Linked DNA regions of Homo sapiens. The protein of the gene in region 2 purifies or fractionates together with the protein of the main gene of each other region. This does not show direct contact. Each region holds a gene or a part of one and is shown on either strand. Other genes may lie near its edges. The genes, in order: IVD and NUDT13.

The links.
Region 1: the proteins of NUDT13 (region 2) and IVD purify together in Homo sapiens (affinity purification with mass spectrometry; 2 studies listed by BioGRID and IntAct, with this or other methods). This does not show direct contact.

The regions. Positions count from the first base shown.
Region 1 is NC_000015.10:40,397,231-40,409,727, reverse strand, and holds the start of IVD (isovaleryl-CoA dehydrogenase, mitochondrial isoform 1 precursor), read right to left. Parts: upstream 3,934-12,497; 5' UTR 3,910-3,933; coding exon of another isoform or gene 3,901-3,909; coding exon 3,757-3,900; exon of another isoform or gene 3,474-3,756; coding exon of another isoform or gene 3,378-3,473; intron 2,093-3,377; coding exon 2,003-2,092; coding exon of another isoform or gene 1,916-2,002; intron 1,790-1,915; coding exon 1,738-1,789; intron 1-1,737.
Region 2 is NC_000010.11:73,103,716-73,115,617, reverse strand, and holds the start of NUDT13 (NAD(P)H pyrophosphatase NUDT13, mitochondrial), read right to left. Parts: upstream 5,164-11,902; 5' UTR 5,051-5,163; intron 1,262-5,050; 5' UTR 1,253-1,261; coding exon 1,170-1,252; intron 1-1,169. UniProt on the Homo sapiens protein: NAD(P)H pyrophosphatase that hydrolyzes NADH into NMNH and AMP, and NADPH into NMNH and 2',5'-ADP. Has a marked preference for the reduced pyridine nucleotides.

The DNA.
Region 1 (12,497 bases), on a different chromosome or scaffold from region 2:
CTCCTCATAAAATATACGGTTTTTCCTTGGCAGCAGATCCAAACTCCAAGTGGCTGAGACACCTGATACCACCCCCAGCCCTGCTGATTGGGTCAAGCCTAGCAAGGTCCTATACACATGTTCACTCTGACCAATAAGTCAGGCTCGTTCTAGGCTCTAAGGAAACCTTGACCTGCCCCTACAACTGCAGGAAGGAAAGCCTGAAGGCAGGTGACATTAGAAACAGCCACCATGACATCATGCAGAAACCAGAACTTGTAACCAGCTTTCTTTTTCAGGTTCCCTTGAAAGAGTTTTCATCTGATTTCTTTTCTTTTTTTTTTTCAAGAGGCGGGCTCTCACTCTCTTATCCAGGCTGGGGTGCAATGGTGTAACCATGGCTCATTGCAGCCTTGAACTCCTGGGCTCAAGCGATCCTCCTGCCTTGGCCTCCCGAGTCACTCGGATTATAGGAGCCCACTACCACACCTGGCCATTTTCATCTGATTTCTAACTGCCTCTTTCTTCCGTAAAATACAATCTGATTCAGAAGCATATTGTCTGCAGGGAGTGGGGTACATAAACCCCCAAAACACAGTAGGAGAGTCTTGCTTAGGAGTACCCAGCAGCCTTTCCCCTAATGCTTTTACATTAAGATGGTTTCAATTAATCTTCAAGTGGTTTCATTTTATGAAAGGTGATATAACTTTCTAGGATGTAAGGAGAAGTATATTGGGTTCCACTCATACTCTCATGCCCAGAGTGAATACAGGCCCAAGCAGGCTGGGCTTTTTTTTTTGAAACGGAGTTTCGCTCCGTTGCCCAGGCTGGAGTGCAGTGGCACAATCTCAGCTCACTGCAACCTCCGCCTCCCAGGTTCAAGCAATTCTCCTGCCTCAGCCTCCCGAGTAGCTGGGATTACAGGGATGTACCACCATGACCAGCTAATTTTGTATTTTTAGTAGAGACAGAGTTTCTCCATGTTGGTCAGGCTGGTCTCGAACTCACGACCGCAGGTGATCCACCTGCCTCGGCCTCCCAAAGTGCTGGGATTACAGGTGTGAGCAACCACGCCTGGCCTAGGCTCATCTCTTTACCGGGCACTGCAAGCCAGTCTGGGCCTCTTTCAGACGTTAATATCATCCAAACCAGAGCCTGCTAGCTCCCTGCCTTCTCCCTCCGGACAGCCTATTAAACACATCATCTGGCCACCTCACCTGGAAGCCCAGATAGACATCTCTCTCCCCTGCCCAGCCCCTACCCTACTCCCCCCGCTATCTGCTCCCAAATGAGCTCCAAGGTTTAAGCAGAAGAGGACACAGGCAGTCCCTGCAGGGACACACCTGCCCAGAGTGTTCCTGCCGAGAGGCCACTGGTAGGACAAAGCTTATAGGGATTAGGGGAGGCAGTAAGACTGAGGTACTATGAAGACAACCACTTGATCCAGAGTTTTCTAAACTTCCCAAATCACCTGGGTGAGCCTATTAAGTATGCAGAGTTCAAGAGTTGGACTGATCCTGATCCAAGTGAGCCACAATGACCTAATTAATCCCTCTGCCTTCTCTACATCACTGTCTAATAAAATAGAAGAGTGTCCTGTTCTCTGGGCTGACAATCAATGGGTGCTTTCACAGGTCCAAAAGATGCAGTTCTGGGTTTCTTTAAGCACAATCTTTCCCTTCCCTTCCTGCTTCTTTTGGGAACTGTCTTAAAGGGCACATAAGAAAAGTTCTTTTTAGGGAAAGACACTATACTCACCAGGGGCTGTGATGCCCAATACGCCCAGGTTCCCCAGCTGCTTCCAAAATTCCTGCCAACAGAATGGAGCAGAGTGGAATAAGTGTTGAGGGGAAGGCAGCCAGTCACATGTGGCTGGAACAATGAGACCCAAACACTTCAGAGAGAGGGGCTGCATTCTTAGAGAGGCTTCATTTACCAGAAAACTGTGTGAGCTCTTCCAGGCAGCAGTGCAGCTCAGCCCCACTCCCTGACTGCCCCCGACTGCCCGGACCTCCCAACTCACTCGCAGGTTCTTGAACTCATTGCTGCGATCGATCTCCTGGGCCTTGGGGGCCAGGTGCTCCTGAAGGAACTTAGCCATGGTCTGACGAAGCTAATAGGAGAGAGGTAAACAGATGCCACTGCAGACAGCATCTCCACTACCCAGACACATTCAAGAGAAAAGGCCACAAGTAACTTCCCCAAACAGCATCAGACTGAAACTGAGAGGCCTCAGTAGTTTATGCCTCCTCAGAGATGATCTTCACCCCTCTTTCTTAAGGTCTTCAGCCTAGACAGCTTGATGGTAATTTTTAAAACGTCACACTTTACATAAAAATCATTCCATTGGTTTCCACTGTACTTAGAATAAAACACAAGCTTCTCACCCAGGCCTACTAGGCCCTGCAGGAGCTGACCCCAGCTGACTCTCCTAGCTTCCCCAGCACCTTCCCACCTCCCACCCTCTGTGCTCCAGCTGCATTCCAGGCAGCTGCCAGATCTCAATAGTTGTCAGGCTCTTTTAAGCCCCCGAACCTTTGGCTAAAAGGGTCTGATTACCCAAAGAGATTAGAAACGCCTCTTGGCGGCTGGGCATGGTGGCTCATGCCTGTAATCCCAGCACTTTGGGAGGCCGAGGCAGGAGGATCACCTGAGGTTGGGAGTTTGAGACCAGCCTGACCAACATGGAGAAACTCCGTCTCTACTAAAAACACAAAATTAGCCGGGCGTGGTGGTGCATGCCTGTAATCCCAGCTACCTGGGAGGCTGAGGCAGGAGAATCACTTGAACCCGGGAGGCGGACGTTGTGGTGAGCGGAGATCGCGCCATTACACTCCAGCCTGGGCAACAAGAGTGAAACTCCGTCTCAAAAAAAAAAAAAAAAGAAAAAAGAAAAGAAACTCCTCTTGCCAGGAAAGCTTGAGAATAGGGATTGAACCCTTTCCACTTGAGGTGGTTCACGGAAGCTCTGAGCGCTCGCTGGCTATAAACATAAACTACGGAGTTGCTGGGAGGCTCATACCTCCGCCAACTCCATCCAGCCTCCAAGTGAAACCTCAGGAAGGACTCTGGTTCTGCTCCATTTGTAAATACTACTTCGTCTTCTTTTCTATTTTTTATGAGATGGGGGTCTGGCTATGTTGCTTAGGCTGATCTCAAACCCCTGAGCTCAAACAATCCTCCCACCTCGGCCTCCCAAAGTGCTAGGATTACAGGTGTGAGCCACGGCGCCTGGCCTCCAACTACTTCTTTCAAGTACTTGTTCAACTTTTGTGTTTTGACCCAATGGGCTGAAGAGCGACAGGAGAGCTCACTGTGGCTTTTTAAAACCCCCAAACTGTTTATACAAAAAAGACTCCCTGGTGATTACGATGACCACCCAGGTGTGAGAAGCATACCTCAGCCTGTTCAGGTGTAAGTGAACTACATACAGATTGAGGGCCCTTGTGCCACAAGCGGTAGGTAGCCTGGCCAATCCTCCACCAAAACACCATCAGTCTCTCAGGAGCTCTCCCAGCCTCGACTCCTCCTCTCTACTTCCAGCAGTACTGTCCCACGGTCTCAAATCTTCACTCCACAGACGTGAGGCCGAGGTCAGAGGACTGGACCCGAGGTCGGAGGCCCCGCGTCCCGCCCCCGCGCTGGCGCTCCCAACGGCCCACGGGCAAAAGCCAAGGCTGGGTGGGCGCTGGGCCGATGGGGACCAGGCAGGAAGGAGGCCTTGGGGACCAGGCAGGAAGGAGGCCTTGGGGCCAGGAAGGGGGTCAGTCTCCTCACCTGCCTCTGCTCCTCGCTTAGCCCATTGATTGCATCGTCCACGGGCAAAAGCGAGTGGGCCCGCTGGGAAACGAAGCCGGCAAGCGGCGGCCGCAGCCTCCAGCTCGCCACACGCCACCCCAGCAGCCGAGTCGCAGTCGCCATCTCTGCCATGCACGAAGAGCCAGCGCTGAAACTGAGCCAGCTCTTAGCTCCACCAATCCAGGCTTCGCCGCCCACCAAACCGGCTAGGGGGTGGGCTGCAGCAGCCAATCACCCTAGGCGGCCCGCCGAAGGCGTTGCTGCCCTTGGACCGCACCCGAGCCAATCAACCGTGATCGCCTGCCAGCTTCCAGCCAGTGCAACGGCCGCAGGCCGAGTGGCCCTGCCCCGAACGCTGCAAATGCTGGCGTGCTCCCTAGGATGAGTGTTTTTAGCGGGGTAGAAGAGCAAGTGTTTTTTTCTTTTTATCTCCCTGCGTTGAAATAGCAGCCCCTAACTGCGGAAATCTCTCTGTGGGAAAGCAGAGTGTGGAAACAGCAATCAGAAAACTGCCCACGTACCCAGTAAATTGGTCAAGCATCTCTGGAATAATTAAGATCGGAAAAGTAGTGCTTGCTCTAACGTGCACACTGATCATAACAGAGTACATCTTGCTTTATTATATAACAAGGTTTGTAGATTTAGATTCATGTTTTATGGGAAAGGGGTTATTAAGGAGTAGCTGCCTTCTAGATTGGAGATGCGCCTCGATTTACAGTGGGGTTACTTCTCGATAAACCCATCATAAATGGAAAATATTGTAAGTCAAAAATGCACTTTGAAAATACACTTAGGCCGGGCATGATGGCTCACACCTGTAATCCCAGCACTTTGGGAGGCCGAGGCGGGTGAGTCACCTGAGGCGGAGAGTTTTAGACCAGCCTGGCCAACATGGAGAAATCCTGTCTCTACTACAAATACAAAAATTAGCTGGGCGTGGTGGTGCATGCCTGTAATCCCAGCTACTCAGGAGGTTGAGGCAGGAGAATCGCTTGAACCCGGGAGGTGGAGGTTGCGGTGAGCTGAGATCACGCCATTGCACTCCAGCCTGGGCAACAAGAGTGACACTCCGTCTCAAAACAGAAAACAAAAAAACACCTAACCTACCAAACATCATAGCTTAGACTAGTGGACCTTAAACGTACTTGGAACACTTATAATAGCTTATAACGGCACAATCATGTAACACAAAGCATATTTTATAAGACAGTGTTAGATATCATTTATTGAATATTGTACAGTTTCTATTCAATGTCTATCACTTTCACACCATCATAAAGTTGAAAAATCTTAAGTTGAACTATTGTAAGTTGGGGACCATTTGTATTTAATATGTGTTAAATATTAAATAGTACATATTTACGTATTATACTATATATTAAATAAGATGTATTAAATAGGCTGGGCATGGTTGCTCATGCCTGTAATCCTAGGACTTTGGGAGCTTAGGTGGGAAGATCGCTCGAGGCCAGGAGTCCAAGACCATCCTGTGCAACATAGGGAGACCCTGTCTCCACAAAAAATTTGAGAAAACAAACAACAACAAAAGATGTATTAAATAGTAAATAGTATGTATTTAATACACCAGAATAATAGCAGTCAGGACTTAGAAACACGGGTTCGGGACACAGGGAAAGGAAGAGTGGTGAGGGGAAAGAGGGGAGCTGATGGAATTAAGTCTCTATCCCCTCTCCACTTGCTCTATTTTCCTCCTCCATGTTGTGTCAATGTTATTTTTAAAATTTAATTAATTAATTAGAGATGGGGCCGGGGTGGGGGTGGGCAGTCTCACTATGTTGCCCAAGCTGATCTTGAACTCCTGGGCTCATGTGATCCTCCTGTCTTGGCCTCCCAAAGTGCTAGGATTACAGGCATGAGCCACGGAACCCAGCCAAGTCAATGCTCTTGAACAACTCATCTCAGGTTGGTACCCTGAGTCCAGGAGTCTATGCAATCCCACTACATAGCTGTGGGACTTTCGGCAAGTTTCTTAGATCTTTTCAGTCACTGTTTCATCATCTTTAAAACGAAAATGATACCAACCAACTTTAAGGCTACTATGAGGAATAAAAGAGATTGCATACTTAATGATTCAGCACAGTACTTGGCACATTGCTCTCATTTTTAGATCATTCATACCACATCCAACTTCCCTGCACCCATTCCTCAGCTTCTAACTCACCCCCTCACCATAATTTGAAGTACTACTGAGAAGTTAACACCCGATCATAGCACTGCTTTTTTGTTGTTGTTGTTGTTTAAGACGGAGTCTCACTCTGTCGCCCAGGCTGGAGTGCAGTGGCGCCATCTCGGCTCACTGCCAGCTCCGCCTCCCGGGTTCACACCATTCTCCTGCATCAGTCTCCCGAGTAGTTGGGACTACAGGCGCCTGCCACCACGCCTGGCTAATTTTTTGTACTTTTAGTAGAGACGGGGTTTCACCGTGTTAGCCAGGATGATCTTGATCTCCTGACCTCGTGATCCGCCCACTTTGGCCTCCCAAAGTGCTGGGATTACAGGCGTGAGCCACCGCGCCCGGCCGCTTTTTTTTTTTTTTAAATCAGGTTGAAATTAAATTTTTTTTTTTTTTTTTTTGAGACAGGATCTCTGTCACCTAGGCTGGAGCACAGTGGCACAATCATGGCTTACTGCCATGACTGGACTCAAGCAATCCTCTGGCCTCAGCCTGCCAAGTAGATGGGACTACAGGCACATGCCACCGGCCTAATATATACATCTATACACATATACATACATATATATATATATGTATGTATATTGTAGAGATGAGGGTCTCACTATGTTACCCAGGCTGGTCTCAAATTCCTGGCCTCAAGCAATCCTCCTGCCTTGGCCTCCCAAACTGCTTGGATTACAGGCATGAGCCACTGTACCAGCCCACCTTTATTAGTTTCTTAAATATTCCACAGTTTTATGTAAATACAAGCAATTATGAATATATATTCTTCTTACACTTAACAATGTATCTTGGAGATCTTGGCATATCACTATGTTAAGAGCGTCCTCTTTTTTCTTTTTTTAAAGACTATTCCATTGTATAGATACAACTTAGTTTTTCTTCTTATGAATGAGGTGGAGGATTTTTTCATACCGAAAGCCCTTATTTTTCTGTGGACTGTCAGATCATGTCCTTTGCCTATTTATGTGTTGCACTGTTGGCACTTTTCTTAACTCAAACCTACAATAAATGTGTAGGTTCACTGGAAAAGAATCAGGTCTGAGAGGAAAGACTTTGAGCTTGTTTTGGGCACAATTATGTTTGAAGCGCTTTTGAGTCATCTTAAGAGGTAATGTGGGCCAGGCATGGTGGCTCACGCCTGTAATTCCAACATTCTGGGAGGCTGAGGCAGTAGGATCACTTGAGGTGAGGAGTTCGAGACCAGCCTGAGCAACACAATAAGACCAGTCTCTACAAAAAATTTTAAAAATTAGCCAGCGGTGGTGGGTTGTGCTTGTAGTCTCAGCTTCTTGAGAGACTGAGACAGGAGGATGGTTTGAACCCAGGAGTTTGAGGTCACAGTGTGTAATGATCAGGCCACTGTACTCCAGTCTAGGCAACGGAACAAAACCCTGTCTCTAAAAAAATTAAAAACAAAAAATAAAAAGATTAACAAAATTAAGCTGGGTGCTGTGGTACATACCTGTAATCCCAGCTACTCAGGTGGCCGATGCAGGAGGATTGCTTGAGCCCAGGGGTTGGAGTCTAGTCTGGGCAACATAGAAAGACCCTATCTCCTAAAATAAAAAGAAGATTTTAAAAATTGATAAACCGCTAGCAAGACTTATCAAGAAAAAAAGAGAAATTGCAAATGTCTGATATCAAGAATTAAAAAGGGGACAGCTCTCAAATCCTACAGATATGAAAAAGATAAGGATATTTTGAGCAATTTATGCTAATACATTTGATAATGTAGATGAAATAGACAAATCAAACTGACACAAACTGACATAACAGAAAATCTGAATAGTCCTATATCTACTAAATAAATTGAAATCCACAATGAAAAACTTTCCATGAAGAAAACTCCAAGCGTAAATGACTTCACTAATGAATTCTTCCAAATACTTAAGTAAGAAATATGGGTATAGGCCGGGCGCGGTGGCTCACGCCTGTAATCCCAGCACTTTGGGAGGCCGAGGCGGGCGGATTACGAGGTCAGGAGTTCAAGACCAGCCTGGCCAACATAGTGAAACCCCATCTCTACTAAAAATACAAAAAATTAGCCGGGCATGGTGGCGGGAGACTATAGTCCCAGCTACACGGGAGGCTGAGGCAGTAGAATCGCTTGAACCCGGGAGGCAGAGGTTGCAGTGAGTGGAGATCACGCCACATCACTCCAGCCTGGGCGACAGAGCAAGACTCCGTCTCAAACCAAAAAAAAAAAAAAAGAAAAAGAAAAAAAAATATGGGTATAAACCTAAGAGAGAATAAACAAGAAATAATACCCGGTGGCTCAGCCTGTAATCCCATCACTTTGGGAGGCCGAGGTGGGCGGATCACAAGGTCAGGAGATCAAGACCATCCTGTGAATGGTGAAACCCCGTCTCTACTAAAAATACAAAAAAAAAAAAAAAAAAAAAAAGTAGCCGGGCGTGGTGGCGGGCGCCTGTGGTCCCAGCTACTGGGAGGCTGAGGCGGGAGAATGCCGTGAACCCGGGAGGCAGAGCTTGCAGTGAGCCGAGATTGCGCCACTGCACTCCAGCCTGGGCAACAGAGCGAGACTCCGTCTCGGAAAAAAAAAAAAAAAAAAAAAAAGGAAATAATACCAAACTTATTATTTCAACTCATTTTATGAGGCCAATATAATCCTGATACCAAAAATCTTACAAGAAACATTACAAAAGAAGGCCGGGCACGGTGGCTCATGCCTGTAATCCCAGCACTTTGGGAGGCCAAGCTGGGCGGATCACGAGGTCAGGAGATCGAGACCATCCTGGCTAACACGACGAAACCCCGTCTCTACTAAAAATACAAAAAATTAGTCGGGCGTGGTGGCGGGCACCTGTAGTCCCAGCTACTTGGGAAGCTGAGGCAGGAGAATGGCGTGAACCCGGGAGGCGGAGCTTGCAGTGAGCCGAGATTGCACCACTGCACTCCAGCCTGGGCGACAGAGCAAGACTCCGATTTCATATGATACAAAAGATTAGAGGTAGATAATAAACCTTAATATGAAAGGTGAACAATAAAGCTTTGAGCAACAAAGTAAGGTAAAAATCGAACAAATGAAAGTATAAAGTAAAAACATAAAATACTGCATGTTCTCTCCTATAAATGGGAGTTGAGTACATTGAGTACACACAGACACAAAGAAGGCAACAGCAGACACTGGGGCCTACTTGAGGGTGGAGGGTGGGTGGAGGGTGAGGATCAGAAAACTACCTATCGGGTTCCATGCTCGTCACCTGGGTGACAGGCAGTTTACCTATGTAACGAACCTGCACATGCACCCCTGAACATAAAAGTTGAAAAAACAAAGTAAAAACTTGTTCATACAGGCCAGGTGTGGTATATAATTACATCCATAATTCCAGCACTTTGGAAGGCCAAGGTGGGCAGATCACCTAAGGTCAGGAGTTTGAGACCAGCCTGGTCAACTTGATGAGACCTCATTTTTGCAAACATACAAAAATTAGCCAGGCAAGGTAGTGTGCACCTGTAGTCCCAGCTACTCAGGAGGCTGAGGCAGGAGAATCGTTTGAAACTGGGAGGCGAAGTGGCAGTGAACCAAGATCGCAACACTGTACTCCAGCCTGGGCCACAGAGCAAGACTGTCTTAAAAAAAAAAAAAAAAAAAAAAAAAAAGAACAGAAAAAAACAAACATGTTTATATTGTTATAAATAAATGGGAGGGAGAAGGCAGAAATCCTCCTTACAGAAGAATTCCAAACAATATAGACAGGTAGATAGTTCTTACTCCCCTTGAGAGTGGCTGGAATTAGTGATGACTTCTAAAGAGAGTATGGAAGGAGTATAACAGTAACTTTACAGTGGAGAAACCCGGCTAACACTGCCTTAACCAAGTGATCAAAGTTAATATCACTAGCAACAAGTCAAGTTGATGTTATATACCTGTAATATCGTGTGCAAAGCTGGTTCCTTCTGGTGGGTTCTTGGTGTCGCTGACTTTAAAAATGAAGCTGTGGACCTTCGTGGTATTACAGCTCTTAAAGGTGGCATGGAACCAAAGAGTGAGCAGCAGCAAGATTTATTCTGAAGAGCAAAGGAACAGCTTCCACAACCTGGATGGGGAGCCGAGCTGCTAGACACCGCTGGCTGGGGTTGGGGGGTGGTGGCGGGGCTGGGGGGCAGCTTTTATTCCCTTATTTGTCCCCGCCCAGATCCTGCTGATTGGTCCATTTTACAGAGCACTGATTGGCCCATTTTACAAGGTGCTGATTGGCGCATTTTACAAACCTCTAGCTAGCTACAGAGCACTGATTGGTGCATTTTAAAATCCTCTTGTAAGACAGAAAAGTTCTCCAAGTCCCCACCCGACCCAGAAGTCCAGCTGGCTTCACCTCTCAATATGATGCGTTGAGTACACTTTACATATGTGGTATTCTTCCCTAAAACACATAACCACAGTCTAATCATCAAAAAAAAAAAAAAAAAAAAGAAAGAAAAATCAGACAAATCCAAATTGAGGGATATTCTACAAAATATCTGACCGCTACTCCTTGAAACTGTCAAGGTCATGAAAAACAGAAACAGATTGAGAAACTGTCATTGACCAGGGGAGACTAAGGAGACATAATAACTAATGACAAAATACAATATGGCATCCTGAACGAGATCCTAAAACAGAAAAACTACATTAGTAGACAGACCAATGAAATCCAAATAAAGCCCAGGGTTTAGTTAATAATGATCTACTGATGCTGGTTTCTTAGTTTTGACAAATGTGCCATGGTATTGTGAGATGTTAACATTAGGGGAAGCTGGGGAAGGGGTATATGGGAATTCTCTGGACTATCTTTGCAACTTTTCCATAAATCTAAAATTATCCCCAAATATATAAATTATTACTATCTTTTGAGACACGGTGTCACTCTGTAGCCTAGGCTGGAGTGCAGTTGAGATAGATCAGGTAGGTTGGTCACAGCCTCACTTAAAGGGGAAGAAGATACTTGCCAAACAGACAGATGGAGAGCACAGCTCAACGCTGCACAAACCGCATCAGGAACTCGTGGTCAGAACATCCTGCTGCAAGGAGGAAAAAGAGTAAAAGGGGAAAAAACCTCGAGCTTGCACAGGGACAGAAACCCTTGGTCAGTGTCTTTAGGTTGACCTATACTCATTTAACAGTAAAAACACACCCCAGGATGGAGAATTACAATGCTAATGAGACATGCAATGTATATACTGGCATGTATAGCAATAGTGTGTGCTCATCCAGAAGACCTTCCACAACATGCTTAACAGCAACACTCATTCCCACCCTTTAATGAATAATTATATAAGCTTCTCATAAAGGTAATTTCCCCAGTGTAGGATGGGGCTGTCTCATTCTCAAGTAGCCCTCTCTGGCCCAGCTATCAAGAGTGTACTTTCACTTTGCAATAAACTACTTTGCCTACTTTTACTTTGGATTTGCTCTCAAATTCTTTTGCTCACCAAAGTCAAGAACCTGAACCGGCCCACCAACAACACAGTGGAGCTTTCACAGCTCACTGCAGCCTCGTTCTCCCTGGTTCAAGCAATCCCCTCACCTAAGCCTCCAGAGTAGCTGGGACTACAGGTGTGCACCATCGCGTCTGGCTATTTAAAAAAATTTTTGGTAGAGAAGAGGTCTTGCTATGCTGCCCAGGCTGGTCTTGAACTCCTGAACTCAAGTACTCCTCCCGCCCCAGTCTTCCAAAGTGCTGGGATTACAAGCATGAGCCACTGTGTCTGGCCAAAATATATATTTCAAAAAAGACTGACTAAACCTCCAGCTCTCATACATTGTTGTGGTGGTATAAACAGGTACATTTATTTTGGAAAACTGAGTTGCTTACCCTCCGACTCAGCAGTTCTATTCTTGGGTATCTATCCAAGAGAAACCAGTGCACTTTTATTAATAGCCTAAACATAGAAACAAATGTCCACTAGCCAGAGAATACTGATACATTCAACGATACAAATTATAGAGACATGTTGAGCTAAAGAAACCAAACACAAGAGTACATTCTCGGCTGGGTGCAGTGGCTCAAACCTGTAATCCTGGCACTCTGGGAGGCCAGGAGTTCAAGATCAGCCTGGGCAACATAGTGAGAGCCCCCAGCTCTACCAAAAATTTAAAAATTAGCGAGGGGTGGTAGCATTCATCTGTAGTACTAGCTATTCAGTTGGCTGAGCCCAGAAATTCGAGGTTACAGTGAGCTATTATTGTGTATTATTGTGCCTCTGAACTCCGGCCTGGGCAACAGAGCAAGATGCTGTCTTTTTTTTTTTTTTTTTTTTTTTTTTGAGTCAGGAGTATCACCATGTTGCCCAGGCTGGTCAAGAACTTCTGGCCTAAAGCTATACTCTGGCCTTGGTCCGTCTCTTAAAAAAAAAAAAAGGGGAGCTGGGCTTGGTGGCTCAAGCCTGTAATCCCAGCACCTTGGGAGGCCGAGGCAGGCGGATCGTATGAGCTGAGGTGTTGGAGAACAGCTTGGGCAACATGGCAAGACCTCATCTCTACAAAAAATACAAAAATTAGCTGGGTGTGGTTGTG
Region 2 (11,902 bases):
TTAGTGCCTACCATGTGCCAGGCACTGTTTTATGAAGTAGGGGTACCACAGTGGAAAGACAAAGTCTGATCTTAATAGAACTTATATTCAAGTGTGTGAGATATTTTAGATATTATTGGATATTTAGTTTGTTTAAAATTTTTCGGCCAGGTTTGGTGACTTACGCCTGTAATCCCAACACTTTGGGAGGTCAAGGCAGGTGGATTGCCAGAGCTCAGTTCAGACCAGCATGGACAACATGGCAAAACCCTGTCTCTACACAAAAATATAAAAATTAGCCAGGCATGGTGGCATATGCCTGTAGTCCCAGCTACTTGGGGGTTTGAGGTGGGAGGATCGCTTGACCCCAGGAGATCAAGGCTTCAGTGAGCCAAGATTGTACCACTGCACTTCAGCCTGAGTGACAGAGTGAGACTCCATCTCTAAAAAAGTAAAAATATATATTTTTTGATGTTTACTGGTTTATTATATAGGATATTACGAAGGATACAAATGAAGAGATGCATTTAGGTCAGGTATGTGGGGGGAGGGTGCAGAGCTTCCATGACTCCCTGGGTGCACCACCCTCCAGGAACTTCCATGTGTTCAGCTATCCAGAGGCTCTCTGAACCCTGTCCTTTTGGGTTTTTATGGTGGCTTCATTACATAGGCATGATTGACAACCATGTAGAAATCTGATTGGACAAAATGGTTATGATTTCATAATAATAGACTGACCGGAAACCCAGCAATGCCTGTCTGTTCAGGTTCTCCTTGGCCTCTCTGTGCAGCCTTCCTTCCTCCGGAGTATGGGGCACAACCCTCTCTGGAATGAGGGTCTTTGGACCCGCAATCAGATTAGAGTCCTGCCATGGGCAGGTAAAAGGAGGACAGGAGAAGGTAAAAGAGATTTTGTTTCCTGAGGCCTGCCCCTGAGGTCTAAAGTGCCCCACATTATAACAAAAGACTGTAATAAGGGCCATAGGAGTTATGAGCCAGAAACCATGGATGAATATATATATATATGAATATATATATATACACACACACACATATACACACACACAAATATAGTAATATATAATGTATATATAATAATCATAAACCTAAATATATATATAAAATCATAATATCACAATAGTTTAATGGGCCAAACAGAATAATCAAAGCTCAGGTTGGCTAAAACTCACCGTGTCTTAGTAACATAGGTTGACAGCAGCCTATAGCACCAAAAAAATTTTCTCCTGCAAGCTATTCCACAATACAGGGACATTGTCAGGTCCTTAAAAAAAAAAAAAAGGAGTTTTAAAAAAAGTCATAATATGAAATTTAAAGTAATGAATTGCCAAGAGGGTTATACTTTAAGCCAGAATGGGATCACTCTGTAATATTAAGGAAAGACAAACTCAATAGGAGTCAGGTGATCTTGTTTCTAAATTGCATTTCTACCCCTAAGTAGCTATGGGATCTCAACATTTCAGTACTTCTTTCATGATCTAGAAAACTGAAACCTGTTCTACCCACTTAGAGTAAGAATGAAGTAGAAGGAATCCTGTAGATAAGAATATATAAAGTCACAACATTAGGAAATTTTTTCAGAAGGCAGCTATGCAAATTCACATGGATCCAAGATATTTTCTATTTTTTTGTTGCTCATTGGGAAAGAAAAAAAATCTGTAACTAAATAATCCATTCTGGCCAAGATGGTCCCTTTAAATTGTATATCAGTATTTTATTCCCCATGAAAAGTACCTCTCACATTGGCAGTAAAAAAAGTCAAGAATTCATTACAGTTAAATAACCAACCACCCTTTTCACTGTGTCTGAGGAAAGCCAGCTTTGACACTAAATGACCGAGGAACATCTAAAATTTAGTCCTACTTCTTGGTTGCATAATTATGAATCACTGATGATGAATTCTTGGACAGTTTTGGCTACAATCTATGTCCTAGCCATGGGTAAAATATATTTAGCAAATGACATTCAACAAAGTATTTATTGAGTACTGACTTTATTCAGGGTCCCTTAAAGAACACAAAAATGTAAAAGATGAAAATCCCTGCCCTCAAGGAACTCTAGCAGGAGAGAGAAAACAAATATATAGCCAGCTTTCACAGAAGGCAGTATGCAATATGTGGGTTGCAAAGCACTCTAGGAGATTATTAAAAGTATTATTCCTACTTTAATAACCCCAAAACTAGTGTGATATACTATAAAAAATGTATTTAAAGTCATTATTTCTGGCTCATACACCACTCAGAATGTAAACTGGTATGATATTTTTACAGGTTGATTTGGAAATATCTATTAAAGTGTCAAATAATAAGCCTCTCTTTTTCCTCAGCAATTCCATGTTTAGGAATTTACCCTAGGAAGGAAAGGATATGTACAAGAACGTTAACTGAAAATTATGATAAAATGGATTAATACGCGACTTAAGAACAAATAGAAGGGCTGGGTGCGGTGGCTCACGCCTGTAATCCCAGCACTTTGGGAGGCCGAGGCGGGCGGATCACCCGAGGTCAGGAGTTCGAGACCAGCCTCACCAACATGGAGAAACCCCATCTCTACTAAAAATACAAAATTAGCTGGGCGTGGTGGCACACGCTTGTAATCCTGCCTACTTGGGAGGCTGAGGCAGGAGAATCGCTTGAACCTAGGAGGCAGAGGTTGCAGTGAGCAGAGATCGTGCCATTGCACTCCAGCCTGGGCAACAAGAGCAAAACGTCGTCTTAAAAAAAAGAAAAAGAACAAATAGAAAATAATATAACAGTGAAAAAAATATATATATATAGTAACAGGGAGAGAGACTTAGAACACATTATTAAGTAAACAAAAAAAGCAAGGAGGAATTGGAGGTGATACTAGTCAAAGTGTACAAAGTTTCAGTTAGGATGAATAAATTCTGGATATCTATTGTGTTGTATGGTAACTATAGTTCATAATATATTATATACTTGGAAATTACTAAGAAAGTAGATATTAAATATTCTCAACACACACAAAAAATGTGAGGTGATGAATATATTAATTTGCTAGATTTAATCATTTCACAATGTATACCTGTATCAAAACATCACATTGTAAACTATAAATATATACTTTTTTTGTCAAAAAGTATATATTATACTTTAATACCTTAATATTATACCTTAATAAAGCTGGAGAAAAAAACAGGTAACAGTTGGTTAACATGACCTAATTATTTATAAAAAAAAGGACACAGACATACCAATATACATAAATTATATGTATTTAATTATATTTTTCTTTCTATTTTTTTTTGAGACGGAGTTTCGCTCTTGTTGCCCGGGCTGGAGTGCAATGGCGCAATCTCGGCTCACCGCAACCTCCACCTCCCGGGTTCAAGCGATTCTCCTGCCTCAGCCTCTCGAGTAGTTGGGATTACAGGCATACGCCACCACGCCTAGCTAATTTTGTATTTTTTTTAGTAGAGATGGGGTTTCTCCATGTTGGTCAGGCTGGTCTCGAACTCCTGTTCTCAGGTGATCTGCCTGCCTGGGTCTCCCAAAGTGCTGGGATTACAGGCAAGAGCCACTGCCCCCGGCCTTATTTATATTTTTCAAATGACTAGAAGTATACATACCAAACTATTAAAGAGTGACTAATTTGGGGGAGTGGGATGAAGACAAATATTGAAAAAGGTGCCTGTAATTTTTATTTTGTTCATTTTTCTGTACTGAAAAAAAAATTAGCCATGTGTACTTATTCCTTTTAAGACAAAAGAAAAGCCTAATAAAATAGTAGTTCCTGAGACTAACTGGTTAATGAGGCTACCTCCATGCCACTGTTCCCCAAAACACCTCACCATATTCCATGAGCCAAAGGGAATTCATTTGGTGAGTTTCTTGGACCTTGGGAACTGCTGCCTGATGTTTTGCCTAGTTTCTGCTACTAAATTAACCTTAGCCAGTTGTAGATTATCATGGCTGCTGACTCATGAGCTGATGGTCACAGAGCTATTTATGTTTTTAAAAGTACAATGTTTGATAGAGATGAAAGGTAATAGCAGTCTTACCCAACTACTAAATGATGAGGCAAGGTGCTTTAACATTAAGAGTTTCTTTGAACTCCCCAACACAAATGATTCACACGTTTCTTATCCTGTTCATCTTTCCAGAAGAAAGATTATAAAGTACTACAGCGTGACAAAAAAGCCCATCTTGTAGTGAGCCGAGATCGCGCCACTGCACTCCAGCCTGGGCGACAGAGCGAGACTCCGTCTCAAAACAAAAAAACAAAACAAAACAAGACAAAACAAAAAAAGCCCATCTTGAATCTAGTGGTTACTTCCACCGTGAAGAGGCCAGGTTCCCTAGTATTTAAGAGACCTTTTTTTAGGCCGGGCGCGGTGGCTCACGTCTGTAATCCCAGCACTTTGGGAGGCCGAGGTGGGCGGATCACGAGGTCAGGAGATCGAGACCATCCTGGCTAACACGGTGAAACCCCGTCTCTGTTAAAAATACAAAAAAAAGTGGCTGGGCGTGGTGGCGGGCGCCTGTAGTCCCAGCTACTAGGGAGTATGAGGCAGGAGAATGGCATGAACCCAGGAGGCGGAGCTTGCAGTGAGTGGAGATCGTGTCACTGCACTCCAGCCTGGGCGACCAAGTGATACTTCGCCTGTGTTTAGAGTCCGTTTCTCCACGACTGTGGACCTCCATGGGACAGGGAAATATGGAAAACTGAGGAACCACGGGAATACAGCTTTGAAGGTCTCACTGACCTGCTTTATAGTTTGCTTTCTAAAAAATAATTTTCCCTCCTTTAAAAAAAAATAAAAATTAAGGCACAATGTGAGAGGTTGGCAAGTTCCATTTTTAAATGACTCTCCAAAAAAGTATCAGAAAATGATGAGCTGTGGTTACTGATGTAGCTCCACAGTTATGAGGCAAAACTATGGTTATATCCCTGGTTTCTGCAAAAAGGAAGAGATTAAGCTAAAATGTTAAAATGCTGTGACCACGACCTTTTTTCAAGTTCTGATCATGCCTCCCTGTGAAGTCCTTCCTGCACTTAGAAGCTGAGCAGGTTTCTGTTTCACTGTACTCACTCTGAATTCTTTTCGGGGCACCTTCCTAGTCCTCAGGAATCAGCACAAAAGAGGAAACTCCAAATGTTCACGTTCAACGGCTTCCGTTCCCTGGAGGGACCATTGCTGCTTCTGCCACACTTCCCAGAATCCTCCTAGAGATGCACTCTGGGAATTGTAGTTCAGTTCCCAGGCATGCTGCTGTGTTCTCCAGCTGCAAGTTAACCATGATTGTCAAAAGCATGAACATCTAAGATCTTATTACCAAGAGAACTACTGTATCCTTGGAGAAAGTAGGTTAGTATTAGATCCATTTTTTAATTAAAAAAAGATAAAGTCATTAAGTCCACCCTCATACACAGAAGGCATATATTATGAGGCTGGGGAGAGGATGAAGCAGGGGTGGGAATCAAATACCTTTTAACCTTAGTATATCTCTAGTTCTCTCTCTGCACACTTTAGAACTAGCTCTAAAATTTCATGAAGTTCTTCCAATTTAAAAGGATGGGACTCTGTATAGGTATGTATAGATATGTTTGAACTTATGGTAGGATTCATTTCTTGATCAGAGGAAGCGCATTCCATTTGACTGGAAGTAGTCTCCTAGAAGTGTGTCCGGAGTTGGTTCCTTCCAGTGGGTTCTTGGTCTTGCTGACTTCAAGAATGAAGCCGTGGAGCTTTCGGTGAGTGTTATAGCTCTTAAAGGTGGCACGAACCCAAAGAGTGAGCAGCAGCAAGATTTATTGTGAAGAGCGAGAGAACAAAGCTTCCACAGCGTGGAAGGGGACCCGAGTAGGTTGCCGCTGCTGTTGGGGGTGCCAGCTTTTATTCCCTTATTTGTCCCTGCCCACATCCTGCTGAATGGTCCATTTTACAGAGCACTGATTGGTCCATTTTATGGAGTGCTGATTGGTCCATTTGACAGAGTGCTGATTTGTGCATTTACAATCCTTTAGCTAGACACAGAGTGCTGATTGGTGCGTTTTTACAGAGTGCTGATTGGTGCGTTTACAATCCTTTAGCTAGACACAGTGCTGATTGGTGCATTTACAATCCTTTAGCTAGACACAGAGTGCTGATTGGTGTGTTTACAATCCTTTAGCTAGACACAGAGCACTGATTGGTGCATTTTTACAGAGTGCTGATTGGTGTGTTTACAATCCTTTAGCTGGAAACAGAGTGCTGATTGGTGCGTTTACAATCCTTTACCTAGACACAGAGCGCTGATTGGTGCATTTTTACAGAGTGCTGATTGGTGTGTTTACAATCCTTTAGCTGGACACAGAGTGCTGATTGGTGCATTTTTACAGTGTGCTGATTGGTGCATTTACAATTCTCTAACTAGACAGAAAAGTTCACCAAGTCCCCACTCCACCCAGGAAGTCCAGCTGGCTTCACCTCTCAGCAGAGCTACTTTGGTGCTGCTCTCTTCTCGTTTTACTACTGAAGTTACTTGCCTATGAGAGAAGACACTTTTTTTTTTTTTGAGATGGAGTTGCTCTGTCGCTCAGGTTGGAGAGCAGTGGTACGTACAATCTTGGCTTACTGAAACCTCCTCCTCCGGAGTCAAGTGATTCTCCTGCTTCAGCCTCCCGAGCAGCTGGGATAACAGGTGCACACCACCATGCCTGGCTAATTTTTGTATTTTTAGTAAAGCCAGGGTTTCGCCATGTTGACCAGGCTGTCTTAAACTTCTGACCTCAAGTGATCCACTCGCCTCAGCCTTCCAAAGTGCTGGGATTACAGGCGTGAGCCACCGCACCCAGCCAAGAGAAGAAGTCCACTCATTCAACATGTATTTAATGAGTACCCAATGTGCCTAGGACTGTTATAGGGATAGGATACAGCAGGGAACAAAACATGAAAATCTCTGTCCTCATGTAACTTACATTCTAGAAGGGGAAACAAACGAGTAAATATACAATGTGTCGTGGTTATAAAGCTTAAGAAGAAAAATAAAGCAAGATAAGTAGAGGGATTATTTTGCTATTTTATATAGGATGGTCAGCCTCATTGTTAAGATAATATTTAAACAAAGACCCTGAAGAAGGTGATGAAGAAACCAAATTTATATCTATGGAAAGAGATTTGTAGACAGAGCAAAATAAGCATATGCAAAGGCCCTGGGGTGGGAGTGTGCCGTTTGAGGAAAGGCTAGGAAAGAGCATGGTGATCAGAGATGAGATCAGAGTAGGCCGGGCATGGTGGCTCATGCCTGTAATCCCAGCACTTTGGGAGCCCGAGGTGGGCACATCATTTGAGGTCAGGAGTTTTAGACCAGCCTGGCCAACATGGTGAAACCCTACTAAAAATACAAAATTAAGCCAGGTCTGGTGTCACATACCTGTAGTCCCAGCTACTTGGGAGGCTAAGGCACAAGAATCGCTTGAACCCGAGAGGCAGAGGTTGCAGTGAGCTGAGATTGCGCCACTGCACTCCAGCCTGGGTGACAGAGCGAGACATTGTCTGAAAAAAAAAAAAAAAAAATCAGATTGGTTCATTATCCTTAAGGAAGACACAGAAAATTGTAGGGAAACAAGATATAAAGTCAATGGATTCTAAGGATGCTTAGGGGGAAATTGGGGCTCTAATAATTTAAAAAGTCAAAATAACTTTTTGTAGTAATTGTTAAGTGCTATAATAATAAAAATAGCTCAGACTGAGCATTTGCTGTGTTCCAGGCACTATGCTAAGTGTCCCACATATTTGTCATTAATCCTCACATCCTATGAAATCTGTATTAAAATTTGTACTTTAGGCTACGTGTGGTGGCACACGCCTGTAATCCCAGCACTTTGGGGACTGAGGTGGGAAGATTGCTTGAGTTCAGGAGTTCAAGAAACCAGCCTGAGCAACATGACAAAACACCATCTCTACAAAAAATACGAAAATTAGCTGGGCATGGTGGCATGCACCTGCGGTCCCAGCTACTCAGGAGGCTGAGATAGGAGGACTGCTTGAGCCCAGGAGTGAGCCGAGATCATGATGCTGCACTCCATCCAGCTTGGTGACAGAGACACCCTGTCTAAAAAAAAAAAAATTGCACGTTACAGATGAGAAAACATAGGCTTAGAAAAATTAAGTAGGGGAGGCGCGGTGGCTCACACCTGTAATCCCAGCACTTTGGGAGGCCAAGGCGGGTGGATCACAAGGTCAGGAGTTTGAGACCAGCCTGGCCAATATCGTGAAACCCCGTCTCTACTAAAAATACAAAAATGAGCCAAGTGTGGTGGCGTGCTCTTGTAGCCCCAGCTACTCGGGAGGCTGAGACAAGAGAATCGCTTGAACCCAGGAGGTGGAGGTTGCAGTGAGCCAAGATTGAGCGACTACATTCCAGCCTGGGCAACAGAGTGAAACTCCATCTCAAAAAAAAAAAAAAGAAAAGTAATTTGTCCATATTTACACAGCTAATCAGTAGAAGTGTTGGGATATTAAACTAAATCTGTCTTAAGAAAGAATCTGTACTTTTGACCACCATACTATAGACCTGGATTGTATCTCTGACTGGGTGTGAGGTAGAGAAGTTGAACATAAATATTGGAAAATATTGGAAGGATTGAAAGAATCCCATGTTCATAAATTGGAAGGCCTAATTTGGTTAAAATGGCATATTCCCCAAATTGATCTACAGATTCAATGCAATTTCTATTAAAATCTCATCTGGCTTTTTTTGCATAAGCAACAAAGGAAAAAATAAGACATCAAAATTTTAAGAACTTTTGTGCTACAAACAATATCATGAAGAATATAGAAAGATAACTCACAGAATTGGGAAAAATTATTGCAAGACATGTATCTGATAAGGGACTTCTATCTGGAATATATAAAGAACACTTAAATAACACAGTAATAAAAAGATAAACAACCAAATTTTAAAATGAGCAAAGAATCTGAATAGATACGTCTTCAAGGAAGATAGAAAAATGACCCATAAGCACATGAAAAGATTTGCATGGGAAATGCAAATCAAAATCATAATGAGATATCATTTTATACCCAATAGGATAGCTACAATCAAAATGCAGATAATGACAAGGAGTGGTGAGGATGTGGTGGAATTGGAATCCTCATACACAGCTGGTAAAATTGTAAATGGTGCTGCCGCTTTTGAAAACAGTTTGGTGGTTCCTCGTAAAGTTAAATATAGAGTTACCAAATGACCCAGCAATTTAACTCCTGGATTTATATTCCCAAGAGAATTGAAAACAAATGTCCACAAAAACTTGTAAATTAATTTTTGTGAAGCATTATTCACAATATTCAAAAAAAGTACAAACAACCCAAGTGACTATCAACTGATAAATGGAGAAGCAAAATGTGGCATATCCAACCATGCAATGACATATTTCTGGCAACAAAGAGGAATTATATATACTACAATATGGATAAAGCTTGAAAACATTATGCTAAGTGAAATAATCCAGTCACAAAAGAGTACATATTGTATTCCTACGAAATGTTCATAACAGGCAAATCTATAGAGACAGAAAGCAGATTAGTGGCTGCCTAGGAATGGGGGCAATTTATATGAAATATACCTAGGGTTGTGATTGCACTTATGTGAAATATTCAGAATAGGCAAATCTGTAAGACAAAAAGTGCCTAGGGATGGGGATGAGGATAGTGTTCAAAGATAATGAGGAGTAACTGCTCATGGAAACAGGATTTTGTTTTTTGTGGGATTTTTTTTTTTTTAAGACAGGATCTTGGCCGGGCGCGGTGGCTCACGACCGTAATCCTAGCACTTTGGGAGGTCGAGGCGGGTGGATCACGAGGTCAGGAGTTCAAGACCAGCCTGGCCAATATGGAGAAACCCTGTCTCTACTAAAAATACAAAAATTAGCTAGGTATGGTGGCGCGTGCCTGTAATCCCAGCTACTCCGGAGGCTGAGGAAGAATTGCTTGAACTGGGACCCGGGAAGCAGAGGTATCAGTGAGCCGAGATCGCGCCACTTGCACTCCATCCTGGGCGATAGAGGGAGACTCTGTCTCAAACAAACAAACAAAAAAAGACAAAGTCTCCCTCTGTCGCCCAGGCTGGAGTGCAATGGCGCAGTCACGGCTTACTGCAGCCTCAACCTCCCAGGCTCAAGTGATCCAGCCTCAGCCTCCCCAGGAGCTGGGAACACAGGCACCCGCCACCAAACCCGGCTAATTTTTTTTTTTTTTCTGAGACGGAGTCTCGCTCTGTCGCCCAGGCTGGAGAGCAGTGGCGCGATCTCAGCTCACTGCAAGCTCCGCCTCCCGGGTTCACGCCATTCTCCTGCCTCAGCCTCCCGAGTAGCGAGTAGCTGGGACTACAGGCGCCTGCCACCGCGCCCGGCTAATTTTTTGTATTTTTAGTATAGACGGTGTTTCACCATGTTAGCCAGGATAGTCTCGATCTCTTGACCTCGTGATCCACCCGCCTCGGCCTCCCAAAGTGCTGGGATTACAGGCGTGAGCCACCGCGCCCTGCCAATTTTTGTATTTTTAGTAGAGACAGGGTTTCGCCATGTTGCCCAGGCTGGTCTCAAACTCCTGCCCTCAAGTGATCCACCAGCCTCGGCCTCCCAAAGTGCTAGGATTACAGGCATGAGCCACCATGCCTGGCCAGATATCTCTTTGATGTACTGATTTGTTTTCTTTTGGGTTAATACCCAGCAGTAGGATTGCTGGATTATATTAAGATGATAGTCCTATTTTTAGTTTTTTGGGGAACCTTCATCCTGTTCTCCATAGTGGCTGTACTAATTTACATTCCTACCAACGGTGTATGAGAATTCTCCTTTCTCCATATCTTCGCCAGCATTCATTATTGACTGCATTTTGGATAAAAGCTATTTTAACTGGGGTGAGTTGATATCTCGTAGTTTTGATGTGCATTTCTCTGATGATAATGATGTTGAGCATATTTTTATATACCTGTTGGGGCAAGGTTTATTTTTTACTACACAGACATGAATACAGAAAGTGGAGAAGAATTGGATCTATTAATGCAACCAATCTGCCACAGTAGTTCCATTAAAAGTATTCCTCAAATTGGCCAGGCTCGGTAGCTCATGCCTATAATCCCAGCATTCTGGGAGGCCTAGGCAGGTGGATCATTTGAGGTCAGGAGTTTGAGAGCAGCCTGGCCAACATGGTGAAACTATCTCTACTAAAATTACAAGGAAAATCGCTTGAACCTGGGAGGCAGAGGTTGTAGTGAACCAAGATGGTGCCACTGCACTCCAGCCTGTGTGACAAAGGGAGACTCTGTCTCAACAACAACAACAAAGTATTCCTTAAATTATATAGGATATGAAGCAGTGATGTTTCACTTCTGGATTGACTTAAGAACTAACATTAACCTTAGACTAATTATAGATACCACAAGTATATATCCCTCTTCTTTACTTTTTGTCTGCATTAAGATTAGTTATAATTATTTTTTCATTTCATAATTTTCTCAAAGTCATTGAAACAGGTCTAAAACTTATCAGCTTTGGCTCTATGATTAACAAACAACAACAAAATAAAATACCACACAATTGCATATCATACAGCATCCAATAATGATTACTCATATTAATCTAGTACTTCATACTTTTCGAAGAAATTTCAAAATAACATCAATTGACTTTTATAATGTCTTTCTGTGGATGGTAGGGCAAATATTATTATGGCCATTTGGTGAATGAAGAAACTTTTGCATAAAAGTTAAAATAATTCACTCAGATACCGTTAATGGTGGACTAGAATCTGGGTTCACTGATTCTACTACTGTTTCTTCCAAATAAGAAGTTATACTTTCTACCAATTTCCGTAATTTTGAGATTTTCCTGCCTCAGCCTCCCAAGTAGCTGGGATTACAGGCTCGTGCCACCAGGCCCAGCTAATTTTTGTAATTTT